Linked DNA regions of Homo sapiens. The protein of the gene in region 1 interacts with the protein of each later gene in a pairwise test. Each region holds a gene or a part of one and is shown in the gene's direction. Other genes may lie near its edges.

Region 1 (3,500 bases):
AAGAGACCATGGCCCTTTTCATTTCCTATTCTCTTTCCCCTGATCCCAACCATTGTTTGCAAAGATGGACTGGTGATCCCATTGGTGGAGCTGTCAGCAAAGCAGGTGGCATTTCATATCCCATTTGAAGTGGTGGAGAAAGTTTACCCACCAGTGCCTGAGCAGCTACAGCTCCGAATTGCTTTTTGGAGCTTCCCTGAGAATGAAGAGGACATTCGGTGAGGCCAAAGGACTGATGGTGGGGAGCGGGGTCCTGATACTCCACACTGTCTGCTGGGTTTCCCATAGAACAAAGGAGACATTGTATTTGGGGCAGTGGTAAGAGGAAGACAAGGGAGGGATTGCCTGGGATTCCACTCCCTCCCCCCCACCCCCCGCCCTGGGGAAGGAATGAGGCTAGGGAGAGAGTGCCTAGGGCATTGTGGTCTCTGACAGGGTCTGCCAAAGGTTATTTGCTGAGTTGTGGCTGTGTCCTCTTCTTCACCCCCAGGCTGTATTCGTGCCTGGCCAATGGCAGTGCGGATGAGTTTCAGCGAGGGGATCAGCTCTTCCGCATGCGGGCTGTGAAGGACCCATTGCAGATAGGTGAGTGGGCCATCATGCCATGTGGCACATCCTGCTCCTCCCATCCCCTGGCTTATGAAGTAAGAACACACCGCAAGAAGCTGGAGCATGTTGTCTGAATAACTGCAGGGCCAGGGTCAAGGGCAGAGACCCAGGTCCTGACAGCACTCCCTGACCATGCCCCCATTTCTCCCCAGGGTTCCACCTGAGTGCTACAGTGGTGCCACCTCAGATGGTCCCTCCTAAAGGGGCCTACAACGTGGCTGTGATGTTTGACCGCTGCCGGGTCACTTCCTGCAGCTGTACCTGTGGGGCTGGGGCCAAATGGTGCACCCACGTCGTGGCACTCTGTCTCTTCCGCATCCACAACGTGAGGCCCTCCCAATTTATCCCGGCCCTATCCTACACTCCATCCCCCCCTTCTCTGCTGCATGCCTGGCTACAATGTGAGCCCCCTCGCCTCGCCTACTCTGCCTCTCTGTCCCCCAGCTCCAGCTCCAGCAAACCTGTTCTCAGATTGTTCCATTTTTCTCTGTGTCCCCTTCAGGCTTCTGCAGTCTGCCTGCGAGCCCCAGTCTCAGAGTCCCTGTCCCGGCTACAGAGGGACCAGCTGCAAAAGTTTGCTCAGTACCTCATCAGTGAGCTCCCTCAGCAGGTGGGTGAGGTCGGCACCCCCTCCTGCAATTAGCTCCGGGCCAGGCCGCATAACAGCCTTCCTGTTAGGCCCAGGCCTCCATGGGTTCACCTAGGCCGTGTTCTGCCTGCCTCCGTCTCTTTCTCCCTCAGATCCTCCCCACAGCTCAGCGTCTCCTGGACGAACTCCTGTCTTCCCAGTCAACAGCCATCAATACAGTGTGTGGAGCTCCGGGTGAGTGTGGTGAGAAAGATTGGCAGTAGGAAGAAAGCCAGCTTGTAGTACAGAGCGCCATTTACTCAAGGCTTGCTGTTGTCAGGCAAATCCAGGCCCCTATCTCTAGATGACTGACTGCCTGTCATCCTCAGACCCCACAGCAGGGCCCTCAGCATCGGACCAGAGTACTTGGTATCTGGATGAATCGACACTCACTGACAACATCAAAAAGACACTGCACAAGTTCTGTGGCCCCTCCCCTGTGGTCTTCAGGTAAATCGGATCTCTGCATACCTGTGTCTGTGGTGGAGGGGGAGCGTCCCTCAGGCTGATGACAGATCCTTTCTTCTATTCATGCCTGTGACCCCTACCTTTTATTCCCTGAACTGGCACAGTGCCTGGCACACAGTTGTCACTAACGAATTGATGGAAGATGATGACCTTGTACAGTCACAGAGTGGTCTGCTCTTACCTAGCAAGAGTTCCTTTTCTTCTTTTGATAGATCAGGAAATGGAAACAGAGAAAGATTTTTTAAAGAGTTTTTGTGGCTGGGGGCGGTGGCTCATACCTATAATCCCAGCATTTTGGGAGGCTGACGTGGGCAGATCACCTGAGATCAGGAGTTCGAGACCAGCCTGGCCAACATGGCGAATCTCCATCTCTACTAAAAAAACAAAAATTAGCCAGGCGTGGTGGCGGGCGCCTGTAATCTCAGCTACTTGGGAGGCTGAGGCAGGAGAATTGCTTGAACCCGGGAGGTGGAGGTTGCAGTGAGGTGAGATCGCGCCATTGCACTCAAGCCTGGGCGACAGAGCAAGACTTGGTCTCAAAAAAAAAAATTTTGTTACAGATGTCTTTTTCCCTCTATCTTCTGTATTTTGGGGCCGGAAGCCCTTTTAGGTTTCATTCAGCCCCGTCTTACTGTCATGGTTTTCTGTTCCTCTGCTTTTACAGTGATGTGAACTCCATGTATCTGTCTTCCACGGAGCCGCCAGCCGCTGCTGAATGGGCATGTCTGCTGCGCCCTCTGAGGGGCCGTGAGCCAGAGGGCGTCTGGAACCTGCTAAGCATTGTGCGGGAGATGTTCAAGCGGAGGGACAGCAATGCTGCCCCCTTGTTGGAAATCCTCACTGACCAGTGCCTCACCTATGAACAGGTAATCACTCAGCGTTGGGGAGCCCCGTGGTAGCTCATTCTTTCCCTCCCCCTGCCTCATCCTCCTCTTGCTGAAATGGACTCTGGGAGGGCTACTCTGCCTTTCTCTGAGCTCTCAGGTGCAGCTCACAGCCTTCTTTGTCTCCAGATAACAGGTTGGTGGTATAGCGTACGTACCTCAGCCTCACACAGCAGTGCCAGTGGGCACACGGGCCGTAGCAACGGGCAGTCAGAGGTGGCAGCCCATGCCTGTGCCAGCATGTGTGACGAGATGGTCACACTGTGGAGGCTGGCCGTGCTGGACCCTGCACTCAGCCCCCAGCGGTGAGTCTCCCCTGAGGCTCACCACAGAACTGAGCCTGGGCCAGCTCAGGACAGACTGAGCCTTCATCTCCTTGTTTGCAGAGACATACCATGATTTTAGTCCTCGGGAAACGGGAGGTGCTGAGCACTGGTGTTAGCAGTGATTTACGAGTCCTTTTTCTGAGAGGCTTTCATCCTTCCTTCCCCTAAATAACACCCACTTTTCAAAATTCTCCAGTGTTTCAGTGATGCTTATGGGGCTGGGTCAAGAAGTACTTTCCTGTATCCTTTCCCCATGCCTCTCTTTGGGGTGTACACCTACTCCATGCCCATCCTTTCCCAGTAGCCCCTCAGCAGCCTCCTGCCCCTTGTTCCCACAGGCGCCGGGAACTGTGTACGCAGCTGCGGCAGTGGCAACTGAAGGTGATTGAGAACGTCAAGCGGGGCCAACACAAGAAGACGCTGGAGCGGCTCTTCCCCGGCTTCCGGCCAGCGGTGGAGGCCTGCTACTTCAACTGGGAAGAGGCCTACCCACTTCCTGGTGTCACCTACAGCGGCACTGACAGGAAGCTGGCACTGTGCTGGGCCCGGGCCCTGCCCTCTCGGCCAGGTGCCTCCCGCTCTGGG
Region 2 (3,500 bases), on another chromosome or scaffold:
CGCCCACTTGCCTCTGCTCCCACCCTGTGGTCTCTGCACGTGCCAGCTCCCCTTTGCTTTCCACCGTGAGGGGAAATAGCCTGAAGCCCTCACTGGATGCCCAATCCTGAACTTTCCCAACCAGCAGAACCATGAGCCAAATAAACCTCATTTCTTTATAAATTACCCAGCCTCAGATATTCCTTTTTGGCAACACAAAAATGGACTAAGAGAACTAGAGTAGCTGATAGAATTTTTTAAAAGAAGGGTAAAGTTGGAGGAACTATACTACTTGATTTTGAAGCTACAGTAATCAGGACAATGTGGTGAAGGGACAGACACGTAAGTCAATGGAATGGAGACGAGAGATTTCTACAAATATGGTCAATGGGTTTTTTTTAACAAAGGTACAAAAATCAATTTAATGGAGAAAAGACAGTCTTTTCAGCAAATGTTACTGGAATAGTTGTCATCCATATCTAAAAAACAACACCTCAACCTCACATCTCATACACAGCTGAACTTAAAATTGATCATAGATCTAAGTGTGTGAAATGTAAAACTATAAACCTCCTTGAAAAAATCATAGAAAATCTTCATCACCTGGACTTGGGCAAAGACTTTTTACTCTAAAAGCGTGATCCATAGCAGAAAATGTTGATAAATTGAATTTCATCAAAACTAAAAATGACTGCTCTGCAAAAGGATGATGCTAAGAGAATAAAAAAGACAAGCTAAGATTAGGAGAAAATATTGCAAAGAACATATCCAGTGTGTGTTCTGAATATACAGAGAAATCTCAAAACTCAACAGGAAGAAAACAAGCCAATTGAAAATGGGCAAAATACTTGAACAGACACTTTACCAAAGTGGATATACAGATATCAAATACACACATGAAAAGATGTTCAGCATAGCCATCAGGGAAATGCACATTAAAGCCACAGTGAGATATCACTTACACCCATTGAAAAATGACTACAATAAAAAAAAAATCTGATAGTAATACCAACTGTCATCGAGGATGAGGAACAGCTGAAAGTCATGCATTGCTGGAGGGAACATGCCACTGTGGAAACAGGTGGGTGCTTTCTTATAGACTTGTATGTGCACTCACCTTATGCCCAGGAGTCCCTCTCCTGTGTGTTCAACCCAGAGATATGCAAGCTGTGTTCACACAAAAACCTGTATGTGAATGATTATACTAGCTCTCTTTATAATTGCAAAAAAAAAAAAAACAAAACCTGGAAACAACCCAAGTGTCCTTCATCTGGATAATCCTTAAGGATAAACTGGTGCGTCCACACAGTGGAATACCACTGAGCAGTGAAGAGGAGCCAGTTATTGAAACAGGTAATTTGGAGGAACCCCAGAAACGGTACAGTGAGTGAAAGAAACTTGTCTTGAAAGGTTATGTACTGTTTGGTTCCATTTGTATGATATTCTCAAAAAGACACAAGACCATGGGGATGGAGACCAGATCGGTGGCTGGAGAGGCTGGGGTCGGGGAGGGCATGACCACCAGAGAAAAGGGTGAAGAGTGTTTTGGGTGGCAGAGCTGTGTGTATGCTGGCTGTGGTTGTGAGGACAAAATCCACACAAGCGCTCAAGTTCGTAGGCTGTACGCCAGAAAAGCTGTTTCACTACATAACTGAAAAAATAAGATTGAAAAATAAGATGTATATATTTTTTGTGTGCGTGTGTAGAAAAATACTTGAAGGTAAACTGCAGAGTGATAACAGTGGTTCCTTCTAGGTACTGGGTTAATATGTGATTTTTATGTTTGTTTGAGCTTTTCTAAGTTTTCTACATTTTCCGTACAAAACATGTATTACTTCTGTAATAAAAGCAGCTTGAGATTATTTAAGGAAGCAAAACACTTCTGTTGTTTCTCATCAACTACAGGATGAAGTGCAGGCTCCCTGGGTGGTTTGCAGGGGCCACAGGCCTTGGCCCCACCTCGCTGGTGCTCCCTCTACTCCTTTCTGTGTTTGAAGCAAGTTCTGGTTCAGACAGAAAGCCTGGCCTTTGAGGGCGTTGGGTCCCCACTTCCTCAGTCATAGATGTGATGTGCTTCCCTTGACTTGGGACCTTCTGAGGGATGCAAGGTGGACCAAAGGACCCGTGAATGGCCAGGGCATGCCTGCGTGGCTTTCGGTTTCTTAAGCAGTGATTTCAGTCCACTTAAAGGGTGTGAAAATTCTGAGAATGCTACGGACCAAATATATTTTATGTAACAGTTGGGACCCGGCAACACTTCAGGGCTCTTTCAAAATCTGGTAGCTACGAGCTCTTCCGTGACTGAGATGGGACAAGAGTGAAGATTTGTCCTTGCTTTTAGCTCTGCTCCAGTTCATAGTTCTAATGGGAAATTATGTGACTTAAACCCAGGCTGTGAGATGCATCAGTGACGTGTGGGCATAAAATAAACCCTCGAGATGTTCTCTTGCATGGTACACTGGCCTAGGCAGGAATATTCTTGAGGCTAAAACTGTAGAACTGTCAGACTAGTGTTACGAATGTGGTGGTGAGAGGCCTGTGCAGCCGCGGGGCCTGTGATGTGTCTCCTGTGTGTCTTTCACTCCTATGCAGTTTGAGTTCATGATCGAGTCCATCCTGTATGCCCGGGATGCCTGGCTGAAGGAGGACGGGGTCATTTGGCCCACCATGGCTGCGTTGCACCTTGTGCCCTGCAGTGCTGATAAGGATTATCGTAGCAAGGTGCTCTTCTGGGACAACGCGTACGAGTTCAACCTCAGCGCTCTGAAGTAAGTGTCCACAGCTGGGACTGGCACCGTCTTGTGGGGCCTCCTGGTCCACAGTCTGCAGGTGGGCCAAGGCCCTGGGAGATCCCATACGACGGTTGGATAAATGAGGGTACCTGTGCACCCAGATAGGACAATCTGTTGTAGCATTGGAGTAATTAAAGCAGTATGGTGCTATAACAAGACAGATGGGCAGAGCAGGGTAGAATGCAAGGAACAAAAATTTTCGTATGTGAAAAAGGTGGCATTACGATTAGGAGGGAGTGAGGGCCAAGTCAGCAAATTATTCTGGAGCAGTTGATTAGCCCTTGTTCTCTCACGCCATACGTGAAAACTTAATTCTGCATGGAATCAGCGTCAGCGACAGACATCCATGGGGGCCTGTGTGCACCATCTTAGGTGGAGAAATGAGCAGCAACAATGGATGGAATGGACCCTGGGCTAGATAGAATCTGGCAGTCTATGTGGCAGAAATCAGCAAAAACACGATTGTAAAAGCAAACAAGTAATTAGAGAAATCACGTGCTGTCAGGTCTTGGAATCAATTAGAAAGAGATGACTAGCCAGATGGAATTGCAGCCCAATCATGTGAACAGGCAAACCGCAAAAAATAAATAAAATTACCAATAAATATATGAAAAATTATAATGTTGTTAGTAGTTAAAATGCGAATTAAAATACATGCTGTTTTCCCTACCAGACAAGCAAAGAGTAAATTAAAATAGTAGCCCAGGCTTGCCTGGCAGTGGCAGGGAG

Evidence for each region. Proteins that work in one complex are often made in the same cells at the same time.
Region 2: the proteins of ZSWIM8 (region 1) and PRMT2 interact in a two-hybrid assay, tested with the Homo sapiens proteins (one large-scale study listed by BioGRID and IntAct).

Annotation. Positions count from the first base shown.
Region 1 is NC_000010.11:73,788,606-73,792,105, forward strand, and holds part of ZSWIM8 (zinc finger SWIM domain-containing protein 8), read left to right. Parts: intron 1-64; coding exon 65-218; intron 219-490; coding exon 491-585; intron 586-761; coding exon 762-934; intron 935-1,111; coding exon 1,112-1,219; intron 1,220-1,350; coding exon 1,351-1,432; intron 1,433-1,566; coding exon 1,567-1,687; intron 1,688-2,369; coding exon 2,370-2,571; intron 2,572-2,718; coding exon 2,719-2,894; intron 2,895-3,253; coding exon 3,254-3,500. UniProt on the Homo sapiens protein: Substrate recognition component of a SCF-like E3 ubiquitin-protein ligase complex that promotes target-directed microRNA degradation (TDMD), a process that mediates degradation of microRNAs (miRNAs).
Region 2 is NC_000021.9:46,656,174-46,659,673, forward strand, and holds part of PRMT2 (protein arginine N-methyltransferase 2), read left to right. Parts: intron 1-2,571; coding exon 2,572-2,747; coding exon of another isoform or gene 2,748-2,751; exon of another isoform or gene 2,752-3,500. UniProt on the Homo sapiens protein: Arginine methyltransferase that methylates the guanidino nitrogens of arginyl residues in proteins such as STAT3, FBL, histone H4. Acts as a coactivator (with NCOA2) of the androgen receptor (AR)-mediated transactivation.